3 linked regions of the Homo sapiens genome follow. The protein of the gene in region 1 purifies or fractionates together with the protein of each later gene. This does not show direct contact. Each region holds a gene or a part of one and is shown on either strand. Other genes may lie near its edges. The genes, in order: UNC13D, ANXA5 and XRN2.

The links.
Region 2: the proteins of UNC13D (region 1) and ANXA5 fractionate together in Homo sapiens (co-fractionation; one large-scale study listed by BioGRID). This does not show direct contact.
Region 3: the proteins of UNC13D (region 1) and XRN2 fractionate together in Homo sapiens (co-fractionation; one large-scale study listed by BioGRID). This does not show direct contact.

What each region holds. Positions count from the first base shown.
Region 1 is NC_000017.11:75,837,753-75,841,404, forward strand, and holds part of UNC13D (protein unc-13 homolog D), read right to left. Parts: intron 3,250-3,652; coding exon 3,205-3,249; intron 3,079-3,204; coding exon 3,010-3,078; intron 2,825-3,009; coding exon 2,755-2,824; intron 2,578-2,754; coding exon 2,473-2,577; intron 2,359-2,472; coding exon 2,266-2,358; intron 2,191-2,265; coding exon 2,087-2,190; intron 1-2,086. UniProt on the Homo sapiens protein: Plays a role in cytotoxic granule exocytosis in lymphocytes. Required for both granule maturation and granule docking and priming at the immunologic synapse.
Region 2 is NC_000004.12:121,672,831-121,676,482, forward strand, and holds part of ANXA5 (annexin A5), read right to left. Parts: intron 1-3,652. UniProt on the Homo sapiens protein: This protein is an anticoagulant protein that acts as an indirect inhibitor of the thromboplastin-specific complex, which is involved in the blood coagulation cascade.
Region 3 is NC_000020.11:21,383,275-21,386,923, reverse strand, and holds part of XRN2 (5'-3' exoribonuclease 2), read right to left. Parts: intron 57-3,649; coding exon 1-56. UniProt on the Homo sapiens protein: Possesses 5'->3' exoribonuclease activity. May promote the termination of transcription by RNA polymerase II.

The sequences.
Region 1 (3,652 bases):
TCAAAAAAAAAAAAGAAAAGAAAAGAAAAATAGGATCTATGAACCTGAGCCTTCGTGCACATGTGGCAAGCATCAGTGAGAACTTCCTTTCAGATGGTTTGGGGGGATATCACACAAACGAGGTCCCGTGGGAGGGCAGAGGATGGGGGAGAGGAGCAGCCTGGGGACAGGCCGAAGTCCCTATTGGACACTGCAGCCACCTGCATTACTGTGCTTGGGCCCTGCAGGCAAACCAGGTCCCTCCCCATCTGGTGCCTGCTCCAGTCTCCAGCCGCACCACCATTCCACCCTTGTCTCCGAATCACCCACCTGCCTGAGGTCCTAGCAGTACACAAGCTGACCCCAGCCCAGAAATGCACTCCCCTGGGCTCCCTCCGCCTCCCACTCAGACTCCAAGTCACAGCCCAGGCCTGAGTCGGCATCCTGCTCCTGTTCCTCCCCTGGCCAGCACTTGGCTGTGTCCCATCTCTTTTTTTTTTTTTTTGAGACAGAGCCTCGCTGTGTCGCCCAGGCTGGAGTGCAGTGGTGTGATCTCAGGTCACTGCAACCTCCACCTCCCGGGTTCAAGTGATTCTCGTGCCTCACCCTCCCGAGTAGCTGGGATTACAGACATGCGCCCCCACACCTGACTAATTTTTCTATATTTTGTAGAGACAGGATTTCACCATGTTGGCCAGGCTGGTCTCAAACTCCTGACTTCAAGTGATCTGCCTGTCTCGGCCTCCCAAAGTGCTGGGATTCCAGGCGCGAGCCACCGTGCCCGGCCGGCTATGTCCCATCTCTGCCCTACTCACATGCACTGGAATGGCTGTGACCCCCTGTGCCCTCCCCGGCATTCCTAGGACTTGACGTGAGTTGCCCTCAACATAGATTTGTCCTTATCAGCGCGTAGTTTTGCTGAGTTGAAGGCTATGGCATTGGGAAGCGGGGCTGGGGTTAGGGACCGGGTCCAAATTCAAATGCCCAGGACTCAGGAGACGAAAGCAACTGAAGTGGGCCCAATGGCAGCCATGATGGGCAGAGGCACACACATCGCTCCGCTCTGTCCACTCAAAAAAGCAGCAAAGGCTGGGCGCGGTGGCACGCGCCTATAATCCCAGCACTTTGGGAGGCCAAGGCGGGCGGATCATGAGGTCAGGAGATCGAGACCATCCTGGCTAACACGGTGAAACCCCATCTCTACTAAAAATACAAAAAATTAGCCGGGCGCGGTGGCTGGCGCCTGTAGTCCCAGCTACTCGGGAGGCTGAGGCAGGAGAATGGCGTGAACCCAGGAGGCGGAGCCTGCAGTGAGCCAAGATCGTGCCACTGCACTCCGGCCTGGGCGAAAGAGCAAGACTCTGTCTCAAAAAAAAAAAGCAGCAAAATGGCTCGGTGCAGTGGCTCATGCCTATAATCTCAGCACTTTGAGAGGCCAAGGCAGGCAGATCACCTGAGGTCGGGAGTTGGAGACCAGCTTGACCAACATGGAGAAACCCCGTCTCTACTAAAAATACAAAGTTAGCTGGGCGTGGTGGCGCATGCCTGTAATCCCAGCTACTCGGGAGGCTGAGGCAGGAGAATCACTTGAACCTGGAAGGCAGAGGTTGCATGCAGTGAGTCAAGATTGCACCATTCCACTCCAGCCTGGGCAACAAGGGTGAAACTCCGTTTCAAAAAAAAAAAAAAAAAGCAGCAAAATGATGACCCTGCAGTTCCAGCACTTGTGTTTCATGAGAAGCTGGAGATCTGGATGGTATGTCAAATCTCCAGATAGCTTTTTCTAATATTTTTTGGAAATGAGGTCTCACTCTGTGATCCGGGCAGGAGTGTTGGTGTGATCATAGCTCACTGCAGCCTTGAAATCCTGGGCTCAAGTGATCCTCCTGCCTCAGCCTCCCAAAGTCCTGGGATTACAGGAGTGAGCCACCGCATCAGCCGAATCTCTAGACTTTTTAAAATTGGCAACTGATTCAAAACTTAAAACACACATTTTGGGCCAAAGGGAACTCTGCTGAGAATTACACTTTGGGCTACCGGCTTGGAGGAGGGCAGGGGGCGTGGGGGGCTGGTGGCTCAGGGGTTCTGCCCAGGGCTGTGTACTCACGCCATGGACTGGTGGAAGTCGGATAGGTCCTTCTGTGTGGCGTGCAGAAAGAGGACGGTGGCAGCCTGGGGACTCAGCGACCCGTCCCAGGAGGTGCTTCCCGCCTGAGGGGAGCAGGTGGAGGAGTGTCAGGACCTGAAGGGCAGCCCCGGCTGCGCCCAGCCCCAGGAGGGCAATACCTCGTGCTGGGTGACCTCGTGGGACACAAGCTGCTGCAGGAGGTGGAGGTGCACGGTGTAGCTCGGCTGCGAGCGGCTGGCCGAAGTGGCTCTCTGCAATGAGGCCTCTGTGAGCAGACAGGGCCTCACACTGGGTGCAGCCAGCCCCGCAACCCAGCAGACCGCCGCAAGAGCTGGGCATGGCCACTGGCCCAGTACCCGACCTACCCGCTTATGGATGAGTTGGAACTGGAGGTGGCACTGGCCTCGGTCTGGGTAGGTCTCAGTGCGGGGTTCCAGGGGGTACCACTGGTCCTCTCGGCAGCGCAGGTCCTGACAGGCGGGGATGCCCAGCCCGTGAGCGTCAGAACCTCATAGAGTCGGGGCAGCGGAGGCGACAGGAGGTGGACCCCAGGCTCAGCTTTGTGAGGACACAGAGCCTCTCCCCAGAACCCCTCCCAACCCCCTCCCTCTGCCTCGCTCCTGGGCCCCTTTCCTCATCCTCCTCACCTGCAGCCTCAGAACCACGTTCCCCAGAAAGTCGTCCTGGCCTTTGTCCTTCCGGGCCTCTTTAAAGATCCTGCGTCAGGCAGGGTCCCATAAGGGGGACGCAGCAAGGGTCGGAAGGGATTAGGCTGGAATCCACCCCCGGCCGCAGCCACCTGGACCCCAAAGGAGCCTGCACCCCAGCATCCAGTGTGCATGTTGGGGGATGGAGGGCAAAAGGAGCCCCAACCCCTTCCCTGTGAGCCCTGCAACACGAACCTGCGAAGCCCATGCAGATCCGTGAGCTCCCCAAGCTTCTGTCGGACAGACTCCACAGTGTCCAGGTCCCTGGCAGGACAGAGGTTTGAGAAGGAAGCAGAGAGAGTGCCTACGACCTCTTCCAGGAGGAGGTTCCGCCTCTCTCACCCCAGATCCCTTCCCTTCCCATCCCTAGGGGCAGGCCAGGTCACTCACCACATGTCCAGATGAAAGCTCGCATTGGTGATGTCCTCAAACTCCCTGTATGGAGAAAAGGGCGTGGTTGAGGGCCCTGGAGGGTGGATGCCCCCAGACGAAGCAGTAAGTGACCACAGCCCAGAGCCATGGAGTTGTAGCCTATCCCTGCCAAACTTCCCTCCTCCCAGCCGCATCCCTTTTTTTTTTTTTTTTTTTTTTTTTGAGATGGAGTCTAGTTCTGTCCCCCAGGCTGGAGGAGTGCAGTGGCAGGATCTAACTCACTGCAACCTCTGCCTCCTGGGTTCAAGCAATTTTCCTGCCTCAGCCTTCCAAGTAGCTGGGATTACAGGTGCCCGCCACCACACCTGGCTAATTTTTGTATTTTTAGTAGAGACGGGGTTTCACTGTGTTGGCCACACTGGTCTTGAGCTTCTGACCTCGTGATCCGCCCGCCTAGGCCTCCCAA
Region 2 (3,652 bases), on another chromosome or scaffold:
AGAAGATTCATGGGTCCAAGCAACAAAGCACGGCAATGGTGCAAGGTTACATGTTCCCAAAATGTCTGCCATAACCTCCAATCTTTCAGAAGCAACAGTATGGGTCAGGAGAAAGTTATGACTACCTCACTGTTGATACATCCATGTATAGACTGGGAAAGGATTTAACTGGAAGCTAAGTTGTCTGCCTTTTCTGTTTTGCTTGTTCTATAGCTGTTCAATAGCACATGAGTAAAAGTACACTTCATATTTTCTCTTTACAACTGAGATTTAACCAAGGCTAGCTATAAAATGTTTTCATATTTCCAAAGATCACAATAAATTTTTAAAAGATTGTGGGTATAGCACAGTGCCTGGCATATAGAAGCACTCAATAAGTAGTGGTTGAATAGTTTGAGTGCCCATACTTCCTTTTTGACATGGGGAAAAAATATGCTTTCTTGTGCACGTATAGCTGCCTAAAAAAATAAGCTTATATACAAACATCAACGTTAACTCTGAATCCACTTATTGACGTGAGAATAATTTATTAAAACCCAAAGAATCAACCTTTACAATGACTGTACTATCCTTTTATTCATTTCAAACTAAGTCTACATATTAAAGCAAGATGAATGCAATTTGCTGAGGCTGCTACTTGCAGTTGGCCTTATACCCACAAGCAGCAATCCAAATAAAGACAGGAAGTGATAATAACAGGCTTGAATATAGAAGTTTTGATCACAGTATATTTAAAAATGTAGATTATGGTGGTAAAGATCTATTTTTTATTATATTTCTGGAGAATAAGAAAAAAATGAGACTCATGTATCTTTATGCTCAATTTTAAAATTAATTATTTTAAAGATAAAAATGAATAATATCAATTCTGGCCATGTGAACATGCTCTTAAAACCTGAAAAGACAGTAACTCTGAAAGTCATGCATGCATCTAAACTTTAGAACTATATCATGATGACACAGACCTTTCTTAAAATAACTTTTAAAATTTAATTACAAAAACAACGCAAGTTCATTGAGAAATTTTATAAAACTAAGAAAGAACAAAAATAAGAAAATAGAAGTTGCAGGCTAGGCATAGTGGCTCATGCCTGTAATCCCAGCATTTTGGGACGCTGAGGCAGGTGGATCGCTTGAGCCCAGGAGTTCAAGACCAGCCTGGGCAACCTGTCAAAACCTGTCTCTACTAAAAATACAAAACTTATCCAGGCACGGTGGCAGATGCCTGTAATCCCAGCTACCCGGGAGGCTGTGGCAAGAGAATTGTTTGAACCCAGGAGGCAGAGGTTGCAGTGAGCCTAGATCATGGCACTGCACTCCAGCCTGGGCACGAAGGAAAGGAAAGGGGAAGAGGGAGGGGAGGGGAGGGGAGGGAGAGGGGCGGAAAGGAGAAGGGAGGGGAGGGAGAGGGGAGGGGAGGGAGAGGGGATAGGAAGGAGAAGGGAGGGGAAGGAAAGGGGAGGGTAAGGAAATGGGAGGGGAAGGAAAGGTGAAGGAAAGAAAAGGAAAAAGGAGAAAGGGGAAAGAGAAAGGAAAGAAAAGAAAAGTTGCTATTTAATATCAATTTCCTGAGGGTGCTAGTTACTACTTCTGGTATGTTTCTACATGTAGATAAAATATACAAATACATTAACACCTAAATGGGTAAAGGACTCATCTTGTACAATATCACAGACATTGATGCACACACTTCTTATCAACTGTTTTAAATGTCTAGAAATGTTCTCTAGTAGGTACAGGAGTTAAGCCTGTTATATGGGAATAATTGGTGAGATGTCAGTTATTTTTACCACAATGTTTTAATTTTCTTGGGAGAATTATGTTTGGGATCAATATCTACTGTAAAACTATTATTAAGTAATCATATGCAATAATAATGATGGCTTCTTCATGTAAAACAATGATATTTAACAGTTTTGTTTTAATCTAAGTATCCTTTCTCCTAAATGAGGATGCCCAATATTCATGGATCCATCTGGATGAGGGACCCTTACACCCCTTCCCTAAGCTTTACGGTTCAGCCTGAGTACAGTTTCATAAGCCCTGGTTCAGTGCAAAGGATGAGTCTTTGGAGTCAAAACAGATGTGGTCTATCTGCAAGATCTCAGATGAACTACTTAATCTCCTCTTCAGCCTCAGTGTATATAGTCATTAACGGAGATTATATAACTAAGATAATGCACTGAACAGTGTCAGGTAATCAGTAGCAAATGCCCAGTAAAAGTAAAAAGTGCCTGATTACTTCTCCTTCTCCCTCTTTCCTCTAAGAGTTCAACTCTCCCTCCAGAGAAAGAATAAAACAAGGATTTACTGGGGAAGAAGGTAAATCTGTTTTAATGCATTAAAAGTATTAAATCAATTTAACACATTAAAAATGTTAAAAAGTGGATTATCTACAAAACGTTCAGTTCCCAAGTGAATGACTCACTATGGCTTATCAAACCTCTCAAATAATAGAAATCTTCTTAGTGCCAGGTATCAGTAGAGACAAAAATGCAAAAGCTTATAAAAGAGCCCTTTAGCTGTCTCAGCTTACTCTCAATTAAGAAATCTCAAATTCTCACTAGTGATAACAGTCCAGCTGCCCTTGCTACGAGGTACAAGTTGGTGTGTTCCTTTTTATAATGCCAAAAGATTATTTGTTTTCAACAGGTTTATTAATTAATAATAATACATTTGAAAGAATCAAAAATAATAGCCAGTGTAACATGTTCTGTATTGCTCCTAGTCACTGGAAGGCTAAGAAAAGCTTGGATTCCATTCAAGGGATACTTTAAAGTAACTCCATAAAGCAGTTTTCACATGTACAGTCTCACATGTACTCTCAGGGTTCTGAATGGTTATATCCACTGCATGACACGTAAGTGTCACCTATACAGCCTCAGTAATCAAAGGACCAAGAATGCAGGCATTACCTGAGAGCATGTTCAAAATCCAGACTCCCAGCCCCTGCCCAGACCCATAGAATCAGAATCTGCAATTAAAGGTCCCAGGTGCGCCACATGCCCATGAAAGTTTGAGCAGCAGTGCTATCCAGTAAGTGCTCCAAGGACAGAAATCAATGAAAACAAGGTTAAAATGTACTGTTTTCCCCTCAGGAGCCTCGTGCTGCAGCAATGCTCTCATTACATCACCAACTATGCTGGGAAATCTGCCCTCTGCCTGTGAATGCAGGCCTCACTGCAGACATCTGAGAGGACTAGAGTTGGTTTCTTACACTGTGACCCTGAAAAGCTCCCAGAACTCCTATCCTACTCTTGACAGTAGGAATGAGAGAATCAGCACTATCTCCTAGCAAAGCCACAACCAATGCTTGGAAAGCAGTAAGATCACCTCAGTACTGAACAAAGCCCCTAACAGGAGTACAACTCTGTAGGGTTGCTCTAGCCCTCTTCCCGAAAGAAGGTGGAATTAAGCTAGATCTATGCTTGAGTTGATATTTAATAAGCCCTTTAATGATAGAGAAAATCAGGGAAGGCACTAATACTCAAGAACACTGAATATCTTACAGTGAAATATTCTTATAGTGAAATATTAATATTCAATAACACTGACTATCTTCTAGTGAAAGAGAAAGAGCTTTGGAGTCAGACAGGCCTCGTTAGGAATTCCAACTCCACTGCTATTCAGTGGAAGCCATGGGTTTGTTTCT
Region 3 (3,649 bases), on another chromosome or scaffold:
CATTCTGGGTTTGCAGCATCCGGTTCCATGGGAGCAGAGGTTCAGCCCCAACGCCTCTGTAGGAAAGTACCAGTTTTACATCAGAAGCCACACCTATTATACAGCACAAAGCCTAAAATCGGCAGGTATCATCTCCAAATTTTAGTACAATCCAATTTACCTGGATTTATCATATGGGATACAGAGTATCAGAATGGCCTTTGTGTCCCTTATATCCAGTATAATCTAACATGTTTCATGAAGCATCAGCATTTATTACAATGGATGTTTAAACTCAACTGAGAAGTTCTGACTTTTAAAAGTTATTTTGTTCATTTTCAATTGGGAAATTTCCTTTTTAGTCACTTAAAGATGTAGACCCAAGATCACCAAGATGGCTACATTTAAGATGCTATCCAAAGAGTAAACATGTACAAGACAGGAGAATGAGGCTTTATTTTCAAAAATGTCCAGACTCGTTCTTGGATCCATTCTTTCTACTTAATTGCAGGTTGCAAATGAATTCTTACTGCTGAGTATTTTGAATCCAGGGTAGGAGACTTGGCTGTTTTTTCCCATCCATTATTCTGTTCAATATGTCAGAAGGTCTGATTGGGAGGAAACCTTTTCAAGTTCTATTGATGCAGCTTTCAATTGACCACGGTGACCTAGCAACATGAGCACTAATTGGCATGGGCTGACTGGCATTTGGTGTACAGTTTACATGGGAACACAGATTCAACGGCTATTATAACCCAGTTTGCTGTCGCAGATTACTAGTCGAAAGAAATGTTTTAATTGTCTTCAAGTGACTATTTTAACTTTGCAGATGCAAAGCAACAGGTATAATGTACTAAATCATAACTTAATTAAAAACTGTCACATAAACAATGTAGCAAGGATATACCTTCTAAAGGCAATCACCATTTAAGACTTTACTTTCTCCTTAAGGCACTTTCCATAACTTCTATTTTATGGAAGGCACTACAAAGAATAAACAGAGGCAAATGCTCCAGTATACTTGAACATCAGAAGCTTTGGGGCCACTGACCATGTTAGGAGGAATTCAATAAAACTTTAAATTCACTGAAGTGCTGACTAGCTGGTAATCAGTTATAACCATATCAGCATAAGAATTTCACTTCCGAGGTCTTAGGGGAAAAAAGCCCGGCGCTGGGCTCATTGGGTAAAGCATTCTTCTCACAGCTATTCAAGCCTGAATCCATCCTCTCTACCCCCACTCTCCTCCCTTCACTTGGAGCTTGCCTTCTTTTTATTAAAACAACACCAGAGATAATTATTTTTGTGTGATGATTCGAAGAAATGAACTGCTCTCTAAAGAACTCTAGAAAGGCTAAAGTTTTTCTTTACAGTTGGTAGCTGAAACCAGAGCTCTAATAACAATGTGTTATAAGTAATTCAGAATACAATTAAAAATAAGTTTTTATCTCAGAAAGAAAATGCATATGGCTAGGGCTTTTAATTATTTTTCAGGACAATTACTAGCACAAATATATTTTAGCAAGAATGCCTCCATCTGTTTTAGCAAGAAGAGCTCCGTGTGCAGAGATAGGAATGGTCTCTTCCAGTCTCTGCAGGAGTGAAGGGCTAAACTAAGGTTTGTGCTGTAACCAAAGTCTCATCAAAACTGGGCCAATTAATGCAAAACCCACGGGCTAAAAACACAATTCACATCTTAACTGTGATCAGTTTTTCTTTTGAGTCTTACAATAATAAAATTCAATTGAGTTTTAGGAAGATCTGCTGGCATAAATAATATACATTATAAATGCAATTCAAAACTATTTTATGTTCCAAAAACAGGTTAAGAACAAAGCCACAGTTTAAAAACGCAAAGTTCTTTTTGTTTGAATTGATTACTTATAATGTTTTTGACAAATATAATTTTTATGAAAAAAATCATCAATAATTAAAATTAAACAGAAGAACAAAGCAAGGATGTCATGTACTACCTTCTTCTGACTTTTATGACAGAAAGGCCTTTATTTTCAACAAGTTTATCACATGTCTAGACTAATTATATATTTTGCAAATACTTACAAAACTAAAAATTTGCCTAGGAAATTATGTTTTAAAATCTGGGATAGAAGCACAGAAACTGACATATCCTAAATTCTAAAAATTAGCAATTAGGCCAGGCACAGTAACTCAGCCTGTAATCCCGGCACTCCAGGAGGCCGAGGCAGGCAGATCACTTCAGCCCAGGAGTTTGAGACCAGCCTAGGCAACATGGGAAAACCCCGTCTCTACTAAAAATACAAAAATCAGCCAGGCATGGTGGTGTGGGAGCCTGTAGTCCCAGCTACTTGGAAGGCTGAAGCATCAGAATCACTTGAACCTGGATGGCAGAAGCTGCAGTGAGCCAAGATCATGACATTACACTCCAGCCTGGGTGACAGAGTGAGACCTTGTCTCAATCAATAAATCAATAAAAGAAGTTAATAAATAAGGCAACTTATTTGAGCCATTTGGCATCGTAGATAGCAACAATTTTTTTAAGTTTCCAAATTGTTTTGGAAAGTTACTGGAGATGTGAACTACTACCAATTTGAATATTTTAAATGTATGCATATGGTAAAATCGGAGTTTTATTTAAAAGATTTTTCATGATTGAGCTTAACACTCATAGGTAAAAAACTAAATGGCTGCCTTGCAAATGACTGAAAAAGAGGCCTCCATTGACAAGAAGAACCCAAACAATGTGGCAAAACTCAAGTGACAAAGGGAACTCCAATGCTGGGTATCTATTAACTCTAGGCTGTGTCTGTGTTGGGAGGATGTTCCTGTTGTATTTTTAAATCTACTGGATATATGGATTATACATACCATCTTAAAGTAGGAAATTATTCAAGAAATGCAATGTAATAAAAAAAAGACACTCAAAATTCTCTTAATAGGATTCTCAACAAACAGTAGCGTCGTGGAAACATACTGAACTAAGAACTGGTAAAACCTGGTTCTGGAACAAAATGGTATCTTTCTTAAATGTCTGTGATGTAAGACTTTTATGATAGAACTCTATTATGCTCACATTTACCTTTTGCTTTCAGGCATAATTTTAAGTATCTGACTAAAACTAAACCAAAAAACATTCCCACAAAACTTGTCACTAACCTGCTGGGTTCACAAAGTCAGAATAATACTAGTACTTGGCTAGGGTAGAATAAGAACAAAACCTGATGGACAGCAGGGTAAGGGAAGGGACAATGATGATGATCTTAGGAAAACTTTTAATGTGAACAGAGGGGAGGAAAGCTGTTGGGGCCTTAGAAGTGGAAACAGATCCTTTACTTCCTTTGAAGTCCCTACGTCTTTATATTACGCTCAGAGTAAATATTCTGGTAAGTTTTGTTCCAGTGAAAAGTTTCTTGGTAAAGAATGGCACAAAAGAGTGACCTTAGGTAAGCTGCTGAACTTCTCTGTGCCTCACTTTCTTCATTTGCAAAAATGTAAACATAACAGCATCTATTTCAATGCACTGCTAGGAGGAATAAATGAAATCATTCTTATTAAAGGATGTTAACACAGTGTTAACACTTTGTAAGCAGACAAACATTTGCCATTATTATTAGTATGGAAAGTGAGCAATAAGATAGAGAAACCAAGTATATAATTTAGGAAAAATTTACCCCTTACTTACTTAATTTCT